Linked DNA regions of Homo sapiens. The protein of the gene in region 7 purifies or fractionates together with the protein of the main gene of each other region. This does not show direct contact. Each region holds a gene or a part of one and is shown on either strand. Other genes may lie near its edges. The genes, in order: TBC1D4, RAP1GDS1, GOPC, SYDE2, AKAP1, FMN2 and APBB2.

Region 1 (3,500 bases), on a different chromosome or scaffold from region 7:
TTCCTCACCAAGCAATTACTCATTCCAAAATGAGAAAAGGGCATGTGAACAGTCTCTGCCTTACTGAATGGTGTTATTTCTCAGGCTGTAAATCAAGCTTTAATTTTTTCAAAAACTATCATAATCTGAAATTAGGATATATGGGTTGCGTATCACTTATCCAACATACTTGGGAACAGAAGTGTTTCAGATTTTGAATTTTTTTTTCAGATTTTGGAATATTTGCATATACATAATGAGATATCTTAAGGATGAGACCCAAGTCTAAGTATAAAATTCATTTATGTTTCTGGCTGGGTGCAGAGGCTCATACCTGTAATCCCAGCACTTTGGGAGGCCCAGGCGGGCAGATCACTTGAGGTCAGGAGTTTGAGACCAGCCTGGCCAATATGGTGAAACCCCGTCTCTACTAAAAATACAAAAATTAGCTGGGCGTGGTGGTGCACTCCTATAATCCCAGCTACTTGGGTGGCTGAGGCAGGAGAATCACTTGAACCTGAGAGGTGGAGGTTGCAGTGAGCCGAGATCGCGCCACTGCACTCCAGCCTGGGCGACAGTGCGAGACTCCACCTCAAAAAAATAAACAACAACAACAAAAAAACTTCATTTGTGTTTCTATACACCTTATACACATAGCCTCAAGGTAATTTTATACAATATGTTTAATAATTTTGTGTGTTTTGACTGTGATCTCATGAAATCAGGTGAAGAATTTTCCACCTGTAGTGTCATGTTGATGCTCAAAACGTTTCTGACGTTAAAACACTTTGGACTTCAGATTTTTAGGTTATCTGTATTCCCCTCAAAATGAACTGTTTATTCCACCTGCAGAACTTAAAACTTTTGGCTGAAAGGCAAAGTTTTCATTCAACATTTGCATGGTCTTATGATGTCTGGCAGAATAATGTCTATATCAGGGAAAGGACAGGCAAATCATTAAGCTAGAAGATGAAGAGCTTCTTAAAAATATTCCAGAGTCAAATATTATTTCTCCTCACATTCCACTTGAACTTTCAAGTCTGAGAAAGACTACAAAAATATCCAGGGGAACAGAAATGGTCATACAGCCAACCAAATGAACCAAATAACTTAGCACAGGGTTTCTAAAACTGTGGTCACCCGGCCAGTAGTTTGAGCATCACCAGAGAACTTGTTAAATCAGAAATTGAGGGTAGGGTCCAGTGGTCTCTTTTAAGAAGCCCTCTAGGTAATTCTGACACACACACTGAAGTTTGAGAATCTCTGGTTTCTGATAATCAAGCCCTGACACTGAACACCTTCAATTTTCAGCTTAGGGCTCCTATCATAATGTGCTCCATTGTGGCTGGGAGTCTCTGGGCTATGTTTGTGCCTTTCCGCCAGATATTGCAGTCAAGATTCTACCACAGAGCCAAGGCAAATTAACCTCCACTTCAGACTGCAAGGAGGAGAGAGAATAAAAAATGATTACAAAAAAAGAGATAGATCTATCTGTCCACAGAACAAACTTCTTAGAAAGCACAGAGAGGTGAAATCTTCCAGGTTTCAATTTCTCTGGTATTCTTACTAGTATATTCTCAAAGCTACTAACCATCAACTTTGAAAAAGAACTGAAAAATGACCTTCTAAAAATATATTGACAAAAAAACTGGTTACGTGAATAAAGCTCAGATAGTAATACACGTTTTTAAGAGAACTGAGAGTTGGGAAAACACTGGCATTAAATTCCTTTTTTTAATCTTAAGAACACAATTTGTAAAGTCTCTTTAAAATCATTCTTGCAAGCTTCAGTAAATAATACACAAAAACAACCAATAAACATTATAACAATCATGTTTTTACCTTTTAAATGATTGTTCATCCTATAATTATAAAACATAATGATGCTTCAAAACTCACAGGCAAATGTTAATTAAAAATTAACATAACAAAGTCTCATATTTTCAATAACAACTCCTGCTTTATTTTTTATTGTAGTAATGTATGTATAACATAAAATAACTTTTTAACAGAAAAATTTGGGTAATGCCATACAGACTCTTTTTGCAAGTGGATAAATATTTACAGAGTATTAGTGACCTATCCTAGACCTTTGGGAGAGAATCAGATATTCTTGTTTCCCCAATCAGTTTAAGTCTGTAATTCACTTCATGCCAATGGGATTAAGCCCTTTTCCCAGTTCAAATATTCAAGTTTAGCTGAAATGTGCTAAGCCTGACATTCCTCCTGTATAAGACTACATAGGCTTGACTAGAGACAGATCTGCATTGGCATACATTTCACCCCCATCTCCATTTCTCTTTGCACCTTGGAGAAACAGTGGTGCATTGAGCCATTCTGGTTGAATGCTTCTCCTGACACACATCCTTAAATTGACTCTGACCCAAAGGGAGGTGTGGAGCCAAGAGGGAACACATCACTGTGGCAACTCCCCACAACAGACCCCCAAGCGATTAGTACAGCACTCCCAGCTCTAAGGTCAAATGTAGATCCAACTCCAATATGTGAGTAGATACTCTTGAAAACATTATCATTTTATATTAGTAACCACAATCCTCCAACTCGGTGGCTCTGCATGAACACAAACTTTGCCATGGTGACCATATATCTCGGTTTGTCCTCAACAGTCCAGGTTTATTACTCACAGTGCTTGTATAATTATTAGTGGTGCCCCTTTTGACAATAAAATTGTCCCATATCAAACAATAAAGTATACGGTCATCCAACAGATAGGGCCATTGCATTAAAGGAATAGGCATGACAGACAAACCACAGACAAGTATGTTAGGGGATGTTTGCAGGTCTACTGCTCTAGGCTACGTTTGTAGACTTTATAGACTCTGTCGAGGACTGAGGGAAACACTTAGGAGACTCTCTTAACAATGATCTTAAGTCCAAATAAATAATTCTCCACTTCAAATATAGAACTCAGAACAAAGCAAACAGCAGGTCTTCCTTCTGATTTCAAGGGTCCCTAGAACTATCCACAGCCAACTCTGCATGAAGCATACTGCTGGATGATAATATGTTGAACTGACCCCTTTAACATGTCTAGCTGCAGAATCAACACTTCTGGGAATTTTTCTGCTAAATTCTTCAAAAAGGATGGTCCCAGCTTCCCCTACTATGACAGCCATATCAAATGAACCTGGATGCTCTAAAGGAAATACAGCAAACAGCACATAGTGTCAATGACTGCGCTTGTCCACTCAACAAATATTTATGCCAAAGATCAAAAGTGGCCGCTCATGGATCTCTAAAGCCATCTCTCAGATGTGTATTGTTTGGCCCAGATAGGATTCTTAAATGTTTACAATATTTGCCAGTACTTTAAAATGCGGGGTCATATATAAAAATTCAGATTTCCACTCTCTCTTGGGAAATCAGCAGCTCTAGCAACGCTAGACTTGCATCCTATTCATGCAATTTCCAAGTGGAGCTAAGTAGCACCTTGAGAAAGGCCACCCACTATCCAGTCCTCCATGGTCCTCACTCAACCCTCTTCTTTGTTATTTGAGTTT
Region 2 (3,500 bases), about 57 Mb from region 7:
TTTGGAGAAAGGCGTTTAGTTAAACATTTACCAGCACCCCTCTAATTATCATTATTAAAAATTATAAAATGAGTTTTATTTTGAACTCAATGAGTTTAATTAGTAGAGATGTCTACTAATCTGCTAAATACAAAGATGTAGCCCAGATATTAATAAATATATTTCAGTACCAATAAGTACCTAAAGTCATTTTGTGAACAAAAAGGACTTTGGAATTAACAAGTACTGTTGACCCTTGAACAATGCAGGCACTAGGGGTACCAATCCCCCTCTCACTCAGTCAAAAATCCACACATAACTTTTAACTCCCTAAAACCTTAATAGCCTAATGCTGACCAGAAGCCTTACCAATAACATAAACAGTCAATTAACACATATTATGTATGTTATATGCATCATATACCATATGCATCAAATACCATATTGTTACAATAAGGTAAGCTAGAGAAAAGAAAATGGAAGGAAGAGAAAATGTATTTACTGTTCATTACATGGGAAGTGGGTCATCATAAAGGTCTTCATCCTTATTATAGTCACTCTTGAGTAGGCTGAGAAGAGGAGGGGTTCATCTAGCTGTCTCAGGTGTGGCAGAGGTGGAGGAGGTAAAAGGGGAGGCAGGAGAGGCAACTCACTTGGTATAGCTTTTATTGAAAAAAAAAAATCCACATGGAAGTGGAACTGCGCTGTTCAAATCCATGTTATTCAACGGTCAACTGTACAGCCAATCATAGCTAAGAGCTCAATTTAACCACTTCCATTTATCACTAACCTAGTCCTTGGTTTTAACTCCTGAAATGCTTCTAGTTACAAAAGCTATATAAATAGAAGCACTGAGAGAATTATTTCACCTGCAATTTGAATCCAGCATCCATATCTTAGCCAGCTTGAGAAATGTTTTTTTAGGTCATTTATTCAGACAAAGCTAAAGTTGGTTCAAACCCTTAAGTTGCTACCTCAAGTATACATTACCATTTGAACACTAAAGAAAAACAAGTTATATAGAGGTTATATTTAAGATACCAATGATATGGAGTATATTTCAAACTTCAGTTTCAAGGAATCACAGGCTTTTATAACTGAAATAGTCTTTATAACTATATGGTTTGAATGTTTTTGTCCCCTCCAAAACTCATGTTGAAACTTAAACACAACAGTACTGGAAGGTAATGGGAGGTGTTTAGGTTATGATGGCTCTGCCCTCATAAATAGATTAATGGCATTATAAAAAGAGCTTACCAGAGTGGATTTTCTCTTTTGCTTTTCTGTTGTGTGAGGGCACAAGGTTTCTCCTCTTTGGAGGACACAGCAACTAGGCCTCATCTTGAAACCAAAGACCAAACCTGCAGGCACTTTGATCTTGTAGTTACCAGACTCCAGAACTCTGATAGAATAAATTTCTGTTCTTTATATATTACCCAGTCTGCAGTATTCTGTCATAGCAGCACAAAATGGACTGAGACAATAACCTATTCTAATATATTCATTTATTATTTACATCTAGGTAAATACAGATTGAGTATCCCTTATGCAAAATGCTTTAGACCAGAAGTGTTTCAGATTTTGAAATTATTCAGATTTTGGAATACATGCATGATACTAACTGGTTTAACATCCCTAATCCAAAAATCTGAAACCAAAAATCCAAATGCTGCAATGTGCATTTCCTTTGAGTGTCATGTCAGCATTCAAAAAGTTTCAGATTTTGAAGCATTTCAGATTTTGAATTAGGGATCCTCAACCTGTATTTTTATTTTATTTTAGCTACTGAGTTGTATGAGTTCCTGATTATTTTTACGTGTTAACCCCTAATCGGATATACGGCTTGCAAATATTTCCCCTCATTATGTAAGCTGCCTTTTCATTTTGTTGTTTCCTTTGCTACAGAGAAACTTATTAATTTGATGAAGTCCCATTTGTTTATTTTTGCTTTTGTTGCCTGTGCTTTTGGTGCCATAAACAAAAAATCATTGCCAACACCAATCTTATGGAGCTTCTCTCCAGTATTTTCTTGCGCGCATCTTATGCTTTTCAAATTCAAATCTTTTGTTTAAATCTCTGACCCATTTTGAGCTGATTTTTGTATATGGGATGAATAAGGATCCAATGTCATTCTTCAGTATGTGGGTATCTAGTTTTAACAACAGTGTTTATTGAAGAGATTGTCCTGTCCCCATTGTGTTTCCTTGGCTTTTTTTTTTTTTTTTTTTTTTGAAGATCAATTGACTGTAAATTCTTGGGTTTATTTCTGGCCTCTCTATTCTGTTCCATTGATCTATGTGTCTGCTTTTATGCCAGTACCATACTGTTTTGATCACTACAGCTTTGTAACATGACTTGAAGCATGTAGTGTGATGCCCCTGGCCTTGTTCTTCTTGCTCAAGATTATTCTGGCTATTCAGATCTTTTGTGGTTCCATACAAATTTTAGAATTGTTTTGCTATTTCTGTGAAAAGTTTCACTGGAATTTTGATAGGGATTACATTGAATCTGTAGATCACTTTCAGTACTATGAACATTGTAACAATATTAATTCTTCCAATTTATGAATATGGGATATCTGTTAATTTTTCAAATTCTTTCATCAATGTCTTACAGTTTTCAGCATAGAGATCTTTCACCTTCTTGGTTAAATCTATTCCTAAATATTTTATATTTTTGCAGCTACTGTAAATAGGATTGTTTTCTTGATTACATCCTCAGAAAGTTTGCTGTTAGTGTATAGAAATGCTTCTGATTTTTCTATGCTGATTTTGTATCCTGAAACTTTACTGAATTCATTTATTAGGACTAATAGTTTTTGTCTTTTTTTTCAAGGAGTCTTTAAGGCTTTCTATGTATAAGACCATGCTATCTTTAAACAGATCATTTTACTCTCCAATTTGAATGCTTTTTAATTTCTTTTTCTTGTCTATTTGCTCTGCTAGGACTTCTAGTACTATCTTAAATAGCAGTGGCAAGAGTGGGCATCCTTGTTTTTTTTCTCAATCTGAGATAAACTTTTCAGATTTTCACCATTAAGTATGATGTTAGCTATGGGCTTGTCATATAGGACCTTTACTATGTTTAGGCATATTCATTCTACACCAAATTTGTTGAGAGTTTTAAAAATGAAAGTATGTTGAATTTTGTCAAATGCTTTTTCTGCATCAACTGAGATGATCGTATGATTTTTGTTCTTCATTCTGTTAACGTGGTGTATCACATTTATTGATTTGTGTATGTTCAACCATTCTTGCATCCCAGGGATAAATCCCACTTGATCATGACGTATGATCCTCTTAATGTGATGAGACTGCAAATCAAACCACAATGAGACACCATTTCACACCAGTCAGAATGGCTATTATTAAAAAGTAAAAACAAACAAACAAAAAACAGATGCTGTAAGGCTGTGGAGAAAAGAGAATGTTTTTACACTGTTAGTGGAAATATAAATTAGTTCAGACACTGTGGAACGCAATTTGGAGACTTCTCGACGAACTTAAAACAGAACTACCATT
Region 3 (3,500 bases), on a different chromosome or scaffold from region 7:
CCAGTTTTAAAATACTGATCATGTGCAAATGCAAAACAAAACAAAAAACCTTTCAATCCTTCACTATCTTCCTTAGCAACTACCATCCTCCCCCTTTCCTTAACCTCTACACGAAGTTCATCCTCATCATATCTACTTCCTTGCCACTCACATTCAGTCCTCTGGTCTCTGTAATTAGAGTTTTGCCCCTACATGCACAACTGGAATTTTCTTTTCTGTGGTCACCAGTAATCAATATTGTTACACACAATTAACACTTTTTGTCACTATCCTACTTCAAACTTGCAGAAAGTTGATACTGTTCATCAACCCCTCCTTGAAACCCACTCTCTCTGTTAGTTTTTATTACACTACTTTCCTAGATGGCCTGTATCTGACAGCTCCATCCCAGGCTCCTTCCTTTAGTGATCCTTTTCCTTCTCCCACTCCATAAGTTTCTATCCTTGGCCTCCTATTCTTTTTACTACATATATACTTTATATATACATATATACTTGGAACAGGCTTAATGAGTTCCAAGGTTTCAAGTATAATAGAAGGATAGTTTCCCTAATATTTCTTCAAAACAGATTTCTCTTCTGAAATCCAGAGTCATATGTCCAGTTGGATGTATCTTGGATACCCCATTGTCACCTCAAACACTACTTGTCTAAAACTGATCTCATCATCTTTTCCCCAAATCCTTCCTTTTCTTCTATTTCCCTTCCCAGTGAATGCCAGATCTCACTCAGTTGCTCAAACTAAAAGCCCAGACTCTTCTTTTTCACTATTTAACCAAAAGCAGTTAGTCACCAATCAAGCCCTCCTGATTATAATCCTCTCAAATCTATCCTTCTTCTCAAATGCCACTTCTCCTGACCTCATCACTTTCTCCTTGGATGACCATAGTATCTTTCTAATATATCTCCTTGACTCCAACTTGGTCCTCTTCACTATACCAAAATAACTATTAAAAAATGTAAATTTTATGAAGTCTGCCATTTTATTTAAAACTTCCATGATTATCAGGTTAAAGTTAAAATTCCTCTATTTAGTATAAAATAATTTCTATAATCCAGCCACTACCTAAAACCCCAACCTCATATTTAGCTAATTTAACAAGCATGCTTTTATCACTCAGACACATCTGATACAAACTACTTTGTCTTCCTCCTAACCGCTCCATTTCCCAAATCTACTGGACCTAGAAGTTAATGGGAACCACCAGTGCCCTAGAAAACAATGGCATAAGTGCTTATCGCTATCCCCACTTCTCTTCCACCAACTCTATTTACATACCAATTCTTCTTACAAAAATCTTTGCAGAGCCAACAAACTATTTTACTATTTAAGGCCATACATTATCTGGTACTAAGATATGTGAACCCTTGGGAGACATGCTTTCATATATTAAGGTCTATATTATCAAGCAGCTGTTATGATAAAATTCAATAAAGATTTATCCAGATAGAAGCTTTTATATAATGGTGGCTACAGAAGCAGACAACTGGCTACAGATCTCAAATTCTATCTTAATCCAAGACCAAACAGGTGTAAATGTTAGTTCAGAATCTACATTTGGATTCAGTTACTAAAAGTTCCCTTAAAGAACTACCCCAAAATATCTGCCAAATTATCAATATGACCACACACTCTAAGCTAAGATTAAAACAAATTCAAGCATGCCCAATCATGATCCAGGAAAAACTGGAAATATGATCCAACATTATAGCAATATGCATTTGCTAACAATGGCTCACTGTCTGCAGCACTCTCAGGGCATTAGTAAGTCTGTGAAGAGCTACTAAAATTTCTATGGGTGTTGAAACTTCATCTACTTTGAATAAGTTGAATCCCATTTTCACTTTTAAATAAAGGTTTCAAACAATACTAGAATAAAGGAAAGAATGGAAAGCAACTGTGATTAAAGAAAGAAAGAAGAGGCTGGGTGGGAAGCAGCAGCAAAGCAAACATACATGGCCTGGTGGTGCTTGCATTGGTCGTTTCAAGTCATTACGTCCTCTGCAGGCTCGGATCACAGTTTTGTGACGATGCAAATGTATTTCAGCTTCTAATTGGTTCCAAAGCTTATCATGAGCAGGTCCCTTCATATCTCGTCCTAGCAATTGTATCTGTTGGACCCTTCATATTGGGAAAAGAGTACATTGATTTTTCATTATATTCACTACAGTGAGAATTCAGGAAAATTAGTGAACATAAGTAGCTTTTGCATGAATCTCAAATTAGTGATAAAACTAATACTCACGAACTTCTTGATGTCTCTCAGATATAAAAAAAATATGAAAACTCTGAAAAGAACAGGTATCCTCAAGGGAAAAACCAGTAAAAAAAATTTTTAAAGGAATTAATGTGAACTCCTTTAGTCATATACTTAATTCAAATAAATCTAAAAAAAAATTTATGAGATTAATGTCAATCTATGTCTTGCATGCAAAGTCACTGAACTCAGATACTATTAAATGTTAGCTTTTAGATGAGATAAATGGACAAAAATATTTCTTCTAATTAGAGTTTCTTTTCACAAAATGATTACTTTAAATGTGGTTAAAAGTTACTAGAACCAGCCAGGGCAACAAGGCAAAACCTTAACAATTAACCAGGCATGGTGGCATGCCTGTGGTCTCAGCTACTTGGAAGGCTGAGGTGGGAGGATCACTTGAGCCTGAAAGGTGGACGCTGCAGTGAGCCAACGTTGCACCACTGCACTCCATCCTGAGCGACAGAGTGAGACCCCATCTCACAAAATTTAAAAAAAAAAAAAAGTTACTAGAAAATTTGTACTTCAAGATGATATAAATTATTTTTTCTTTGTTCCATGTTTTTAATGTGACATTAAAAGAATATGCACAAAATGATTTAGTACTAATAAGTCACCAAAGTTTGTTAATAATTTACTTAATAAATACAGCAGAATTCTGTGTATGATTATGATAAAATCATTGTCATTAACTAAATACCAACACGTTTTTTTGAAGGGCAAGAAAGACTGGGTTTCAGTGATCATAAAAAGAATTCCTTATGGAAGTTCTGCTATGCATGTGAATATCGGCTGTACTGGTCTCAAGGCACAAAATAGTTGAAAAGTGCTGCTCTACAGAGTTGTTAGCATTTCACAGTAAGATACTATCAGTGTTTGTGTGTGTAAACTAAACATATTTAGTATGGATAACTAGATCTGCGATACATAATGCTGTCAGTATTAATTTAACAACAGTAAGTTAAAACCAACTGTAAAATAATTCTGAGGAAAAAGATTAATGCTTCATTTACCATAAGAAAAAAGAGTAGGCCAGGTGCGGTGGCTCACACCTGTAATCCCAGCACTTTGGGAGGCCAAGGTGGATGGATCACAAGGTCAGGAGTTTGAGACCAGCCTGGCCAACATGGTGAAACCCCATCTCTACTAAAAATACAAAATTTAGCTGGCCGTGGTGGCAGGCACCTGTAATCCCAGCTACTCAGGAGGCTGAGGTAGGAGAATCGCTTGAACCCAGGAGGCA
Region 4 (3,500 bases), on a different chromosome or scaffold from region 7:
ACACACATATTGAAAGAAGGTCCAACTAAAAATATAAAAATAAGTATGCAAAGTTACAAGGCAAAAAAAGTCCTTAGTCTCTTGCAACTATACATGTTATGGGATAATTTTCAGATTCTAATTAAAGTAATTTTACTTTGAATCTGTAAGAGAAGAAAGAAATGGCAATTAAAAGTTTTTCACTCAGAAAAATATTCCACACAGTGGTGAACTACCCAAGTCAATTCTGTTTTCTCAACTATTATTTCATAATAAATCTAGATTACTTACTGAACATTTAACTAGTGCCCCCAGCTCAAATGCCATCAGCAAATTTTCCAAGAAATTATATATTTCAACCCTCATTGAAAATCTGTAGTACCGGCTGGGCGCGGTGGCTCACGCCTGTAATCCCAGCACTTTGGGAGGCCAAGGCGGGCGGATCACGAGGTCAGGAGATCGAGACCATCCTGGCTAACACGGTGAAACCCTGTCTCTACTAAAAATCCAAAAAATTAGCCGAGCATGGTGGCGGGCGCCTGTAGTCCCAGCTACTCGGGAGGCTGAGGCAGGAGAATGGCGTGAACCCGCGAGGCAGAGCTTGCATTGAGCCGAGATCACGCCACTGCACTCCAGGCTGGGCAACAGAGCTAGACTCCATCTAAAAAAAAAAAAAAATGTGTAGTATCTAGAGAGACATCTTTTCATCATTTTAAAAATTCTGCAGAAATAAACTCTCTTGCTTTTCCTTACTTCTCTTTAAAAATCCCAAATAAAAGTATCTTATGAACACTGTATTAGATGTTTAAATCTGTTTTAAAAGCATTAAACATTTTAATATTTATTAAAATCCTGTTTCTAAATAAGTACAAGTATCCCCTGCTTAGAGTCAAACTTGGCAGTCCAGATGAAATTACTAGAATAAACTTAAGTCTTAAGTTTCTGTGTGTGTATATGTGTGTGTGTATCTTTATCTTTCCTAGACAAATCTAAAAGGAGGAGAGGGATGGAATGAAAAGGAAAGAAGCACCTTTTTTATTTTCATTCCCTTGTGGCTAGCAATAAAAACCCTAAAGAAAAAAAAAAGCTGTGTGTTAGCTTTTGAGACGGGAAAGTAGAGAAGAAAACTCTGAGACCGTTTTCAGTTCCACAAAAGTAACAGGGAGCAGCAAAAGAAAGGAGCACAAAAGATGAGCAGAATAAATAAATACCCCAAAAAGGTGTCCTCTAGCTCAATTCCCAGTGCTCCTCAAGGCAGTACTCCTCAACTTCGACCTTTTCACTCTCCATCTAGAATCCTAATGATCTGAGGCAAAGCAGTATTCTCACAAAGCCTGCTTGCCTTCCCCTTGATAATAACAAGTAAGTGCTAGGCACAGCACCAAATGGATTATCTCTTTTCATCCTCACAGCAACCTGAGGACTGAGGCTACACAAGGTTGAGTAACTTATCCAAGGTCACAAGCCTGGTAAGTGGTAGAGTCTGACCAGAAACCCAGAATCTCTATTCTGTTAACCATTGTCCTATACGGCCTCCTCTCTTGCATTTCCAAAATCTCACTAATACTTGTTAGTTAAGCAAGATGAGGCCAATATAGAGGGAACTGCTCAAATGTGTAATATATAAGTAGTAAGTATATTAATTCATATACATAAAACTGAAGCAAAAAGAGCCCAAGTGCTTTGCTCTAATAGGGGTAGTTTAAGTACCAAGTATCAGAATAAGGTAGAATTTTTTGTAAAACTTCGGGGATGTGAGAGCTCTAGAAGCTTACTATTCAAAAGTACGGTACACCAGACAGCAGCATCTACACTGGGAGCAGAATCTCAGGTCCCACCCCACACCTATAGAATCTGCATTTCAACAAAATTTCCAGGGAATTCATATGGACATTAAGTTTGAAAAGCACTGCTCTAAAACATTGAACCACATTTTGAGTGGCAAAGGTCTAGCAAACAGCCTTCTTAAACACAGCATTTCTTGGGAGCCACTGGTCTAGAAATGTAGGACTTTCAAATCAACACAACACTGTTTTCTGCTGAATTTGTAATTCTTGAAGTTTTCCAGCCACCAGCAACTCCAATGTTCCATGACACTCTTCCAGAAAAAGAAAAAAAAAAAAAGCAACTGCACTTGCTTTCTAGCACCACAATAGCAGAATCTCTCAGGAAGAGATTTAAAATTAGAAGACTGTCAAAAACTATATAACTATTGCTACTCACCTTGAAAAGGGCAAATACAGAAAAAAATTGTTGGAAAAATTCATAAAGATTATGCAATTCATAAAGATAAAAAATCAGAGTTACAAATACTTGAGAAAAGTAGATGGGAATCAAGTCATAGTGTCAACTTCACTTTAAGATGGTTAAAGATCATACCAAACTAATTAATACTACCTTAAAATAATTGTCTAAAAATTTTAGACAAAATACTAAGTTATACAGTCTAAAGTTTTTTCTTTCCCAGACCATGTAGCAGGAAAAGTGGAGTCAAAGTAGGCTAATTATTTTTTAAAGCAATAAAAGGTGCTTTTGAATTTGTTTCTGAAAACTATATGCTAATTAAAACTTATTTATAAAGATTTATAATGATGTATAGTTGGCAAACACATTAAGATTCCTTTGTAATCTTAAGGCTTGCAGAAACTTGACAATTTTTATTATGTGTAATGACTTTAGATTTCTGAAATAATCATCTCAATTAGGAACAATTCGGCCAATCTGCGAACACTACATACTTAACTGCATCAAATCATTTGTCATTATAATACTATCAAAAGTTCTTAGTAGGAGCCAGAAATCAAAATAGAAAATCATTTGTGTTTCCATTTGTCATATAGTCTCAAAAATTTTCACAATACCTATATGAAGTATCTCCATTCCACTGAATAATTATTCTGTATTACAAATTCTAAATGTAATTTTGACAAAATATCTTATGAATAATACTGTACAGAAAAATGTGCTATAAACCTTTTAGGATATTTAACATCTTTACATAAACAAGAATGTACTGGTTCATCTAGACCGCTCCAAATAAGTTTTGCAGAAAACATGATTTAAAAGTAGAAGTCAAGTGACATCAATTTCAAGTAAGTAAATATTTAAAGGTAAAAGTTTAAAATGAATACAGCAAATGCTTTTTTAAATTTTATTTATTTATTTATTTATTTTTTTGAGACGGAGTCTCACTCTGTCTCCCAGGCTAGAGTGCAGTGACACGATCTTGGCTCACTGCAAGCTCCGCCTCCCAGGTTCACGCCATTCTCCTGCCTCAGCCTCCCGAGTAGCTGGGACTACAGGCACCCACCACCACGCCCGGCTAATTTTTTGTATTCTTAGTAGAGACGGGGTTTCACAGTATTAGCCAGGATGGTCTCGATCTCCTGACCTCGTGATCCGCCCGCCTCGGCCTCCCAAAGTGCTGGGATTACAGGCATGAGCCACTGCGCCCGGCCCAGCAATTACTTTTTAAAATGTCTTTAAACCCGGCCTAAGATTCTCCCATCTTCTTTGCAACT
Region 5 (4,080 bases), on a different chromosome or scaffold from region 7:
CATAGTGGAAGAAAACGCCTGAGAATGACAAGCTGAAGGTATTAACTCATACCTGAAACAACTGACTTCCCCACAATAGGAAAACAGACCAAGCTACAGAAAGGCCCAATCATTCAGACTCACAGGGAAGATTAGGAAGGAGTGACCTAGGGGAACTCTACGGCCAGCTCTCTGGGTACATTGGCTACAAGCTGCCTGCTCTTCAAAGCCCTGAAATGCACACACAATCAAGTCATGTTGCAGGCTGGGAGCAGGAGGCTAGCCAGCAAAGCTTAGGGAAACCAATTCGTTTTTCCTCCCAAACAAGCTTCTGGGTCAGAGGCTAAGGAGAGGGGTGCTTTTAATAGAATTCAAGTCACTCAAGTAATTCAAGAGAAACAAAGTCAGTCTCAGGGATTGTTCAGGGAGGAGAGGGGAAGAGCAATGCTTAAGCACCTATCACAGTCCCCAGTATCACAAATATGATCTCCATTTGTCTTTAGGACAGGAAAAGGGAATACTGTAGAGGCTAACACCAGCCTTCCCCTAAAATATGGCTGCAACCCAGCCTATGTCCAAAGCTCAAGAATAATTTGGGTTACCAGGCAGCAAGATAAATTGCTTTTAAATATTGATGTTCAGCAACCTTACACTGGAGACATATCGACTTCAGCACCTGAGCAGGCCACTTACAACAGACACCTCCACTGTCACCCTGCAGTGGCCAAGTGAGAATGCATTTCCTAGAAACAACTGGGAGATGGGAGAGATATTCCTACAAGGAACTAGACCTAGACACAAATCCATTAGACCTGTCTCACTCATTGGCTAGGATCTGTTACCTGCAAGTTCTGAGCCATCATCTGACAACATGCATGAAGACAGAGCCTATTAATCCAGTAATGGACTCAAGCTTTAGTGATTTGCATGCCTGTAGGATCCAGAGGACCTCCTCTAACCTAGGGCCATATTTCAAAGAGAATACACCCAAGAATTATGCAGAACCTACAAAACTAGTTAGAGGTTAAAGAAAAGTTCAACACAAGTCAAAAGGTTCCCAAAACATAACTTCACTTGCTTCCAGTGCTCAGGGTCTTAAATAATCAGCAGGTGAACCACTTCAATGCCAAGATCAGAGGAATTATATAAATGATCAAGTCAGGCAGCCTTCTTCATTTCAAAGATGTTCTGTACCTTTAAGAGCAAAGTGGATGGGTGGTGCTAAGAGTCCAAGCTTTGCTTTCTAAATAAAGAGTTAAAAAAAAAAAAGGTACTAATTTGGGAAGGACTTAGCAGTTACAAGAGCTTGTAAGGCTACTAGTTGCCAGAATTAATAGCTTTTTGTGAACGGTGTTCCTTGATCAGTAACTAACAGATACTGTTGCACCAGGTCCAGCAGCCTAGATTTCACTGGAGACAAATCTAAACACGAAGTAACGCGCACTACAGTAGGGGAAAGATACCCAGGTTAACCTCACTAATTGCCCTGCGCATACACCCTACCCAGCTTGAGAGGCCTCGACTCGCACCTGGAGCGAAGTCCACCGGGTTTGTGTTAACGGCGGCAGGAAGGCGCCGCCACCCAGGACATCCCCCAGGAGAGGAAGATCCCGAAACGCCCAGGGCTCCCATGCCGTTCCGAGTCGCCACAGCACCGCCTACCACGATCAGCACCTTTCTTCTCCTATCCCTCCCTGGAAGGGAAACAGGAAGACCTTCAGCTAGGGCACAAAAGAGTTGAACGCCAGAAAGCCCGCGTTCGAGGCATCCAGCCACTGCCTCTCCTAGCACATCGTAACCCCAAAACTGGCGCGGTCCCTCCAGATCGCAGACCCCGGGCCCTGGGCCGCAGGCGGGGCCGGACACGTGACCGTCGGGGCCCCCGGGCGTGAGGTCGGCAGACACCCCAGGCTGGACGGCCTCCACCCCTCCGGACACGCCTGCAGGGGCTACGAATGCAAATTCCCCCCGAGACGCCCCTGAGCCTCCGACCTCCAGACCCCAATTCGGTTCGAACGGTCCCTCAGCCCGAAACACGGTTGGATCACAACCGGCCGATGTCCCGGCCCATCTTCCCAGTTCCCCTGGCTCGCCGCACGGAACTCCCAGGGGCTGCGCCGGCGGGCGAGCCGAGGGTGAGAAGTTGGGCGAGGCTCCAGAAGTGAAGGGGCAGCTCCGGCTCAGACTGTGTACACACGACCTTTGAAAAGTAAACGCCCGCGGGGCTGGGCGACCTTGGGTGGGACGCGCTCGGGTCAGCCTCGCAGGCGGGTGTGCACGCTCCGGTTAAGTTGAGGTGCAGAGAGGCGACCCGGGCGTCGCGCCCTCGCCCCCCGCCCCCGAGGACAGTGACGCGCGTGGGGAGGACGGCGCGGCCGCAGAGCGCCGCCCAGAGCCGCGCACACGCGATCTGTCAGGAGCCCGCGGGCAGACAACCGGCGGGGAAGGACGAGAGGGGGCGCAGACGAGGGAGGGAAAGATGGGCCTGCCTGACAGCGCGCGGCGGCCGAGAGCCCCCAGGACACCTCTGCGTCCGGAGCGTCCCGCCCCCGGGGTACCTGGAGGGCGCGTCGCACCCTGCACCTGCACCTCAGGCTCCCCATCGCCCCGACCCCGCCGCCTTCGGGTCTCCGGCAGGGGGTCCCCGGCGCAGCTGCCCCCGACCTACCAGCTCCTCGGCTACCATCGGGGTGCGGGATGCGGAGTCCGCGCGCCGCCGCCGGCCCCCGGCTGTGCCCCGCGGCCCGGCCCGCAGCGCCGCGCTTCCGCAGCTCCCCCACGTGCTAGCCCAGGCGGGTGGAACACAGAGACATTAAATACTGAAGACGCGCGGCGACGTGCCCGCAGCGCGACGCAGGCCCCGCCCCTCGCCCTTGTGCCCGCGCGCTCCCGAGCCCGCCCCGCTCACCTGCGCGTGCGCGCCGCCGGCCGCTCCCGGCAGTGCCTCCGCCGCGCCTCTCCCAGCTGCGCCAGAGGGGGCGCGGTCTACAGCGCTGGGCTAACATCCCGCCGCCGCCCGGAGCCGGGTCTTGCTCGCGCTCTCGCGAGAGAGCCGTCATCTCTCCGGTGCCCGGGAGAGGGGCCGGGCGGGACGGTACAGCAACCGGAGGAACCTTGATTCCCTGCCCCGCAAGCCCAGCACCGGTTTTGCCGCCTTGTCTCGAAGGGTCAACCAGGCCATCTCCTGCCTCGGGACGGAGAGCGCCCTGGAAAAGGCGGAGGGGCCGGTGAGGAGCAGGGCTTCCCTCGCTTCGGGGCTTTGAGCTTCCCTGTGACCGTCATTTCCTTGTAGCGTATAATTGGGTTGGCCATTAATAATTGCTCGATAACTGCATAATGGTGAAACCTGGTACCACTCAAATGCAACTTTCTTGCTCGTTTTCACAAGTCGATGTTATCGAAATGAAGCACTTTTCTCTGAATTGGTGTGGGTTTTGGAATGATTTTTGCAGAGATAGTCACGGTGAGTCACTATCTCTGCCAGGACCTTGGGAAAATAAATTCCTCCAAAATAAATGGAGAGGGTAGGGTTTTGGCTGTCCAGCCCTGCTGTCATCCTTAAAACAAAGTGACTTTAAATGAACATTTGTTTGGCCAAAATATAGAAAATAGATCATGCTAAGAACTAACAATTACTTGGGAAAATGCTTAATCTTCACTAGTGATCAAATGCAAGTTTAAATGACAGATGCCATTTACTATACCTAATGAGATTTAAGTCAAATTCATATATATATGAATCCCAATTGCATGGTGTGGTAGATGTCAGGAAGGAAACAAATAGGAAACTGACATAGGAAAGAAAGAAAAAGAGCCCTATTTTTTATTTTTTTTTTTTTGTGAGACGGAGTCTTGCTCTGTCGCCCAGGCTGGAGTGCAGTGGCACGATCTCGGCTCACTGCAAGCTCCGCCTCCCAGGTTCACGCCATTCTCCTGCCTCAGCCTCCCGAGTAGCTGGGACTACAGGCGCCTGCCACCACGCCCGGCTAATTTTTTGTATTTTTAGTAGAGATGGGGTTTCACCGTGTTAGCTAGGATGGTTTCGATCTCCTGACGTCGTGATCCGCCCGCCTTGGCCTCCCAAAGTGCTGGGATTACAGG
Region 6 (4,079 bases), on a different chromosome or scaffold from region 7:
TTCATTAAATTCTAACACTCTATTTCATTTAATAATTAAGAATAGAGGTTAGGTAAACATGTTGGGCTCTTAAGGTAAGGCCTTGGGCCCTGTAAGCCTGTAAGCTAGGATAAACTCATTGGACTGCTTGACACTGACCAGAGCAAACATACTCTGGCTGTGCTTTATGCCGCCCTGGGTATGAGTCTATAACATATGCTAGGGAGGGGAGGTACCAGTTGGACTAGACGTGCTTTTGACCTTTCCACCTTCACTGTCTCCAAACTACAGGCTGTTCTGGGCTGGACCATGAAACTGAATGAAAATTATCCCTACTATTCTATTTATTTATTAATTTTCTAATAGCATGTATCGGATTTTCTTGCAGCAGCAAACAGCAGTGAGTGACCGCTTAACTTCACTAAGCAGCGGAACCCAGACTGCTGCAAGATAGAAACTACATATCACATACATACCAAACGTGGACAAATACACACAGCTATGAGAGCGGTCAGAGACTGCCTTTGGATCGTACCGGAATAAATGATTTGTGCCTCCAAAACCGACTCTTGCGAAAGAACCATGAACAATTTTTTTTCTTTTTAATGCTGTGGTGATGAAAAATGAAAGAGAAGAATGATGGTTTAGCTAACGAGACGAAAAAGGAGTTTATCTCCCTGGCGTGACCCGAAACTTTGTGAATAGCAGGTATTTTGGTGAAATGGGCAGAGCAACTTAGGACAGACACAACTAAGTTGTTCCCTTTAAGATCTTGTAAGAACACAGAAAACCAACAAGTATGTCCAAGTCATTTCACCGTGGGGGGTGAGCTCGCTGGGCGGAAAAGGATTCCCTACGGAGAAGAGATGTGCCACTACCAGGTCACCGCCTTCCAGAGCCCAGGGAGGGCGGGTGGCAGGGGAAGGCCCTGACTGACAGGCGACTTGAGACCCGGAGGCCAGCAGCAGGGCGCGCTCACCTGTGAACACGTTCTGGAAGCCATCCGCAGCCGCGGGGGCCCCAGACGCCTTGGCGGCCAGTGCTGGGGACACCCCACCGCCGCTGTCACTCGCCACCCCGCGCTCCAGCAGGTGCGCGGAGCCTCCCACCCGGGGCGTGCGGGCGCCTAGCTCCTCCGTCCAGTCAGCCGAGCGGCTCAGGCCGGCCGCAAGGCCGCCGTCGGCCCGGTGCTTCTTGGCCGGGGCGGCTACGGAGGCCAGGGCAGTTCTGGACCCTCGGCTCAGGGAGGGTTCCGGCCGCCTCTTGATCCTGGGGCTCTGATTAGGGGACTGAGACGGGGAGTGATTGGGCGAGCTGAGCTGCCGGGTGGTGGTCTTGATGTAGCAGGGGGTGATGAGCGGGTAGGGCTTGAAACAGCGCTGGCTAGGCGCGGGGCTGCCGGGCAGGGAAGCGGCCGCGGGGGCGTCAGGTCCTTGCGCCTCCTCCTCCGGCTCTTCCCCCAGCCTCTGCGGGGCGTCCTCTCCCACCTCCGGGGCCCACTCCTCCCCCGGAGAGCCCCGGGGCGCATCCTCAAAAGCATCCTCCTCACCCTCCTCATCCGTGTCCCCAGCCCCTCGCACGGGGGCTCCGGCCGCTTCCTCCCCCGGCCCGGCCTCGGGAAATGGGAAAGCCGTGGAGGAGGGCGAGTCTTTGGCCGCGGGTTGCGCTGCCGGGAGACTGGGCGCCTCGGAGACCGGGAGGCCGCCGGGGGACGGCGGTTGCTGGGGCTCCCGGGGCTCGGCGGCCAGGCTCTCGGGCAGGTCGGAGAGCGCGGACAGCGCCTGCTCGGTGTCCGGACTGCCCGGGGCCTCCCCAGCCCCGCCGCTCGGCCCCAGCAGGAACCGGTCCAGGCCCAGGAAGGCCCCGGGCTGAGGGGAGACGGCAGTGGGGGGCGCTGCAGGCTCCTCGGCGCCCTGGAGCTGCTGCTGCTGCTGCTGTTGCTGGAGCTGGAGCTGGAGCTGCTGCTGCTGCTGCTGCTGCAGGCGGATCGCCTGCTGGATGTCTGAAAGCAAATCCTCTTGCTCCGTAGCCGAATGGAAGCTATAGATGTCCGTGTCCGAGCCCGAGCTGGTCCTTTGTCCATCCTGCGCCCCTGCTGCAGTTTCCACATCCTCGGCGATCGGCCGGCCCCCGACCCTAGCCTCGGCAGGCCCAGGACCCCCTGGACCGGTCACCTCAAAAGGGTCCGCACACTCGGTATCCGACAGGCCGGCCTCGTCCGCCGAGAGGCTGAGGTCTGGAGTCTTGGTGAGCAGGGAGTGAGCGCTGTCCAGCTCCCCGGTCTGCAGGGCCTGGGAATCCAGTACATCTTCGCGGGAGCCGCCGGCGCCTTTCCCCTTGGACAGATTCTTCCTGATCCGCAGGTTGGAAAACACCGAGGCTCTGGAGTCGGACTTGCTCTTCTTCTTGCCCGACTCCCCGCCGCCGCCGCCGCCCCCTCCCCCCTTGCCGTGCTTGCCTAGCGCCTTCTTGCCCCCGCTCCCCTTCTTTGTGGCTTCCACATCCCTGGGCCCCAGCGCATCCTCGGCGCCACCGCCGCCTTCGTGCAAAGCATCACCTGCGCTCCTCTTCAGCTTCCCATCCTGGTTCCCCATGGTGCAATCCCGCTGCTGCGCCGCCGCGCCGCGGGCACTCAGGCCATCCCGGCCCTCCTCGGCCCCAGGTCCGGGCCTAGGGAGTCTCCCGGGAGAGTCAGGCGGCGGCGGGGGGAGCCGCTGGGAGGGGAGGCCGACGCGCGCCCGGCTGGCCCCGCTCGCATCTGCCGCCGCTTTGCATAATGCGCGGCGGCTCCCGTGGCTGCCGTCGCTGCGGCTGCGGCTGCGGCTAGGGGCCGGCGGGGCGCGAACATGCTCAGTGCAGAGCGCGGCGCCCACCAATGGCTGCGCAGAACGCAGCTCGGGCCTGGCTCCCCGCCCGCCGCCGCCGCCCCCTCTGCCCCCGCGCGGCTCCTCGCTGAACCTGGGCGCGAAAAACGTTTCCTCTATCTCGGGGACTTTAATCTCCACCGTGCGAATCGAATGCATTGTCCCCGACCGAAGAGATCGTCAGCTGGAAGATGCACTCTGATCTTCAAAGCTGCTGGACCTGCCAAGAGAAAAGTTAAATAAAAAAGAAGAAATTTTTACACGGAGAAAAACTGAAGCCCAATTCCAGTTTAGAGGTGCCATCGGGTCACAGCCACATACACAACCCCCTGTCTGCCTCTGCATGGCTGTTCAATAAATATTTGTTGAATGAATGGATTGTTCTGTTTCTTGAATAATTGATCATCTAATTGAACACTGTTAATGTGCTTGAGCATATGGTTTAGGAGAGGTTACTACACATGGTGCTGCTTTTATGTTTCACACACAGACCCTGCTTCTCCAGGAGAGGACATTAGCTGTCATTTATAAAATTGGTTTGTGATTTTTTTGTTGTTGTTGACAGAAGGAGAGGTAGGAGAAGTAGAAAATACTGAGATTAGTGTTGATTAAAATGCTAGTCTCCAAATTCTATGTGTTTACCATATAAATTAAACAGCATTTGTATTCAAAAAGGGTGCATATACGATAACTCCCAGGAGGTCAAACTCATCAATATTAAACATGTCACTATTGTGGCTGCCTATAAAAAGGAAAAAGACAGAAAGGAAACACCCTTGGCACAAACACACAAAATCAGATGTTATGCTATAAACTACCACTTTCCCAAGCAAACCCTTCCAGGCAGACTTCGTCCTGTAAAAGTTTCTTAACGTTCTGGCCACAATATGGGGATAAACATTTTTCCTCATTGAATATTTTGTCATTGTTTTCATTATTTATTAAATTTAGTTACCTATTTTTTAAGAATAGTTTTTTTAAAAAAATATGGATATCTAAAGCTTTAAGCAGTAAACTGAGATTAAAGTGGCATTAATAAGTTTTACAAGTATTTAAGTAAAAGTCATTGATAACCACTTTGAAAATATGGAATAGACATCCAACTTATTAATATTTTCAAAATAACCCAGAGGAGGGAGAAAAGCTATATATTATACTGTGCAACTTAAATGTAGCAAGCAAATGTGTAGTCTTCCTTTGCATATTATGAACCAGCCTTTAAAATTCTTTTTTAAA
Region 7 (3,500 bases):
AGAAAGTCGTAACTCAGAGTCCAAAATATAGGTAATTCATAATTAAGAGAAAAGCAAACTTTTATAACACACCACTGTACTGATACTGTCTCTAATATAATAATCATGAATATTCATTGAGCTCTTGCTATATGCCAGATACTGCTCCTAAAAGCTCTTTGAAGATGCTCTCGCTTAATCTTCACAGCAGGTCTATGCCAAAACACTCTTATCCCCATTTTATAGATGAGAGGCTATGAGAACTGCCTAGATATAGCAGAGCTGGGATTTGAACTCAGGAAGCTCACTCTAGAGCCTATGCTCTTAATGATAAGTTAATGGATCATGAGGCGCATTGCCACACCCATCTAGACTTGGGACTTGGTTTTCTCTGTGTATAATTCTGCTTTTGTACACTTTAGCAATGAATCTGATTTTGAAACAGTTACTACACAAGATCCATCTAGTTTCATACTCTGTGTCTTCAATTTTATTAAATCCCAAACTAAACATAAAATTACATGTGGGTACCACTGAAACCTGTACCCAGGAAGGTTCAAAATGATGCATCTTTTCAACGTTTTCATAAAGCAAACATGAAACACTAAGTGATTAACAGAGAGACTATATACAGTGTGACCAACAGGTATTTATTTATCTGAGCCATCATGCTTACTACCTGGGGCCACTGAGGGAACTGTATCTTTGAAAAAAACCCTAACTAGATTCAAAGTTCTCACTTTGCAGTAGCAAGATACAACCTTTCTTTTAGAATCAGGGCCAAGGCACTCTTTAACTTTTCTAAACTCCTATGAAAATAGTCATTTCACAGATGCTTTTCCTTTTTCAAATAGCCTCTTGTTTTCTTAAAGGACAGACTACAGAGGAGGAAAAGGGCAGCCACATATTGTATACATGATTGATTGTACAAAAAGAAGTTACTAAACAGCTGGAGGGGGCGATTCAGTAGTAAAGGAAAATAGAAAGTAGTCAGTCTCTAGGTTAGCCATTGCATTTTATTGTATAAATAGCATTCTAACTTGGAAAGGATGCCCCTGAGGTAGAAATGAGTCTATTTTTCTAGGCTCCCCAAAGTGCAGTCTACGATCCAAAGATAATTGCATCATGATTTAGTCATAAAACACACACCACTGTGATGACTATGTATTTAACACACAGCAAGTCAACAGACAACTATACCCTTTTTATACATGTACTATGGCATGGCATACTAAGATGTCACAAGATATTTGCTCTCGTTTTCTCTTTTCTTTCAACTGTTGGTATTTGTGTTTATTTTATATATATACACATACACATGTATATACTATATAAAACATACATAATAAACACTAACTTTATCATTACAAGTGAAACATACAATGTTTAATTTAGACTGATCATGATTATTTTAAACACTAACAGTATGTTTCACAGGAAGGATGAAATCAAAAGAAATACAATGCTAAAAAACTGCTTATTTTATTTCATTCACCAATCTATGTATTACCTGAAACCTGAAGTGTGATTAAAGCAAAGTGATTTCATTTCATGGGGATCCACAGCAGACTCTGAGGCAATTCCAAAAGAGGACTCCCAAAATTATGACTATTAATATTGAGACAGTGCAACATGCTGAAGCAGGTGCAGAGATCCCAAGTGAACATTTTGAAGGCTGGCATAGGTTTGGCTTCTAGTATATTTTTTAAAAACACAATCTCATTGCTTTTCGGTCACAGCTAATACATTTTTTCGAGCATATTTGATTTGAAATACCTATCCTCAGCAACTTATCAAGGGCCACCATCATCCTGTCAAAACCAACTTTCAGAGAGAAAACTAAGCATATCTTCTTAACATGTAAAAAAAACTCTAATCCAGTTCTCATCACAGGCCAAGCACTGTAAGATGTTCTGTGGAAACCCAACAGCAAGTAATGTCAGGACACTGAGCAAATGAGTGGTAAGTGTCACAGCAGAGGGGCCCCTGAAAGTCTTCCTGGAAAGAGGGAGTTAACGTGTACATTTCAAGAGTCCCAGTAGGTAGACTGGAGTGCACAAACTTTGCCCTCTCCACAGGCCCCTACTGACACCAGCACTCAATAAGCCAAGGGGCTATGGACAGAAATACCTAAATACTCATCAGCAGGGAACTTGCTAAATAAATCGTGGAACTTGTATATAGTGGAATAGTATACATAATACTTAAAAAGACTGACGTAGAAAAATGGACTGATCTACAAAATACGTTCTTACGTGAAAAAAAGCAAAGCATTCATAAAACAATCTAATTGGAGTAACTTTTTCCTGGTTTTAACTATTTATTGTGGCAAATTTTAAACATACAAAATTAGAGAATAGAATAATGAACCCGCACGTACCCATAATGCAGCTTTAACAATCAGCAGCTTATGGGCAATTTTGTTTCTTTTTTTATCCTTCTAATCCCAATTATTTTGGAGAAAATACCATACACAATATTGTTTCCATCAGTATGTGTTATACTGTATTATATATGTTATACTATGACATAGATTAGTATTTTATATTAGTATATATCTCTAAAACATAGGGATTCTAAAAACATCATCACAACATTTGGGTAAATTTTAAAATTGATTATTATTGTTTTTTTTTTTAATTTTAATTTAATTTAATTTTATTTTTAAATTTCTTTTGAGATGGAGTCTCGCTCTGTTGCCCAGGCTGGAGTGCAGTGGCACAATCTCGGTTCACTGCAACCTCTGTCTCCCAGGTTCAAGCAATTCTTCTGCCTCAGCCTCCCGAGTAGCTGGGACTACAGGCACGCACCACCACACCAAGCTAATTTTTGTACTTTTAGTAGAGACAGGGTTTCACGATATTGGTCAGGCTGGCCTTGAACTCCTGACCTGGTGATCCACTGCGCCTGGCCTAATTTTTATTTTTTGAGATGGAGTCTCGCCTGTCACCCAGGCTAGAGTGCAGTGGCGGGATCTTGGCTCACTGCAACTTCCGCCTCATAGGTTCAAGCAATTCTTGTGCCTCAGCCTCCCAGGTAGCTGGGACTACAGCCACCCGCCACCATGCCTGGCTAATTTTTAATGTTTTAGTAGAGAAGGGGTTTCACCATGTTGCCCAGGCTGGTCTCAAATTCCTGAGCTCAGGCCATCTCTCCACCTTGGCCTTCCAAAGTGCTGGGATTACAGGCGTGAGCCATCATGCCGGTCTTAAAATTTATTATTAATATGCGGATCTATGACTCAAACATTTTCTGAGAGGAAATAAAAACATAAGGTAATGGTCATCACTGGGAAAGGGGGCTGGGGTGAAGGGAAGAGGCAGCTTAATTATTCATTTAAAAATACATTTATGTTTTTTGAAACAGAGTCTCGCTCGATCACCCAGGCTACAGGGCAATGGCATAATCATGGTTAACTGCAGCCTCGAACTCCTGGTGTCAAGTGATCCTCCTGCCTCAGCCTCCTGAGTAGCTGGAACTACAGGCACATGCCACCGTCCACCATGCCCAACTAATTTTTT

Evidence for each region.
Region 1: the proteins of APBB2 (region 7) and TBC1D4 purify together in Homo sapiens (affinity purification with mass spectrometry; 3 studies listed by BioGRID and IntAct, with this or other methods). This does not show direct contact.
Region 2: the proteins of APBB2 (region 7) and RAP1GDS1 purify together in Homo sapiens (affinity purification with mass spectrometry; 4 studies listed by BioGRID and IntAct, with this or other methods). This does not show direct contact.
Region 3: the proteins of APBB2 (region 7) and GOPC purify together in Homo sapiens (affinity purification with mass spectrometry; 3 studies listed by BioGRID and IntAct, with this or other methods). This does not show direct contact.
Region 4: the proteins of APBB2 (region 7) and SYDE2 purify together in Homo sapiens (affinity purification with mass spectrometry; 3 studies listed by BioGRID and IntAct, with this or other methods). This does not show direct contact.
Region 5: the proteins of APBB2 (region 7) and AKAP1 purify together in Homo sapiens (affinity purification with mass spectrometry; 4 studies listed by BioGRID and IntAct, with this or other methods). This does not show direct contact.
Region 6: the proteins of APBB2 (region 7) and FMN2 purify together in Homo sapiens (affinity purification with mass spectrometry; 3 studies listed by BioGRID and IntAct, with this or other methods). This does not show direct contact.

The regions. Positions count from the first base shown.
Region 1 is NC_000013.11:75,475,670-75,479,169, forward strand, and holds part of TBC1D4 (TBC1 domain family member 4), read right to left. Parts: intron 1-3,500.
Region 2 is NC_000004.12:98,267,884-98,271,383, reverse strand, and holds part of RAP1GDS1 (rap1 GTPase-GDP dissociation stimulator 1), read right to left. Parts: intron 1-3,500. UniProt on the Homo sapiens protein: Acts as a GEF (guanine nucleotide exchange factor) for the Rho family of small GTP-binding proteins (G proteins) that stimulates the dissociation of GDP to enable subsequent binding of GTP.
Region 3 is NC_000006.12:117,571,512-117,575,011, forward strand, and holds part of GOPC (Golgi-associated PDZ and coiled-coil motif-containing protein), read right to left. Parts: intron 2,122-3,500; coding exon 1,956-2,121; intron 1-1,955.
Region 4 is NC_000001.11:85,194,517-85,198,016, forward strand, and holds part of SYDE2 (rho GTPase-activating protein SYDE2), read right to left. Parts: exon of another isoform or gene 3,120-3,500; intron 1-3,119.
Region 5 is NC_000017.11:57,083,966-57,088,045, reverse strand, and holds the start of AKAP1 (A-kinase anchor protein 1, mitochondrial precursor), read right to left. Parts: upstream 2,801-4,080; 5' UTR 2,648-2,800; intron 2,291-2,647; exon of another isoform or gene 1,972-2,290; intron 1,674-1,971; exon of another isoform or gene 1,509-1,673; intron 1-1,508.
Region 6 is NC_000001.11:240,090,604-240,094,682, reverse strand, and holds the start of FMN2 (formin-2), read right to left. Parts: upstream 2,801-4,079; 5' UTR 2,574-2,800; coding exon 959-2,573; intron 1-958. UniProt on the Homo sapiens protein: Actin-binding protein that is involved in actin cytoskeleton assembly and reorganization. Acts as an actin nucleation factor and promotes assembly of actin filaments together with SPIRE1 and SPIRE2.
Region 7 is NC_000004.12:41,008,543-41,012,042, forward strand, and holds part of APBB2 (amyloid beta precursor protein binding family B member 2), read right to left. Parts: intron 1-3,500. UniProt on the Homo sapiens protein: Plays a role in the maintenance of lens transparency, and may also play a role in muscle cell strength. Involved in hippocampal neurite branching and neuromuscular junction formation, as a result plays a role in spatial memory functioning.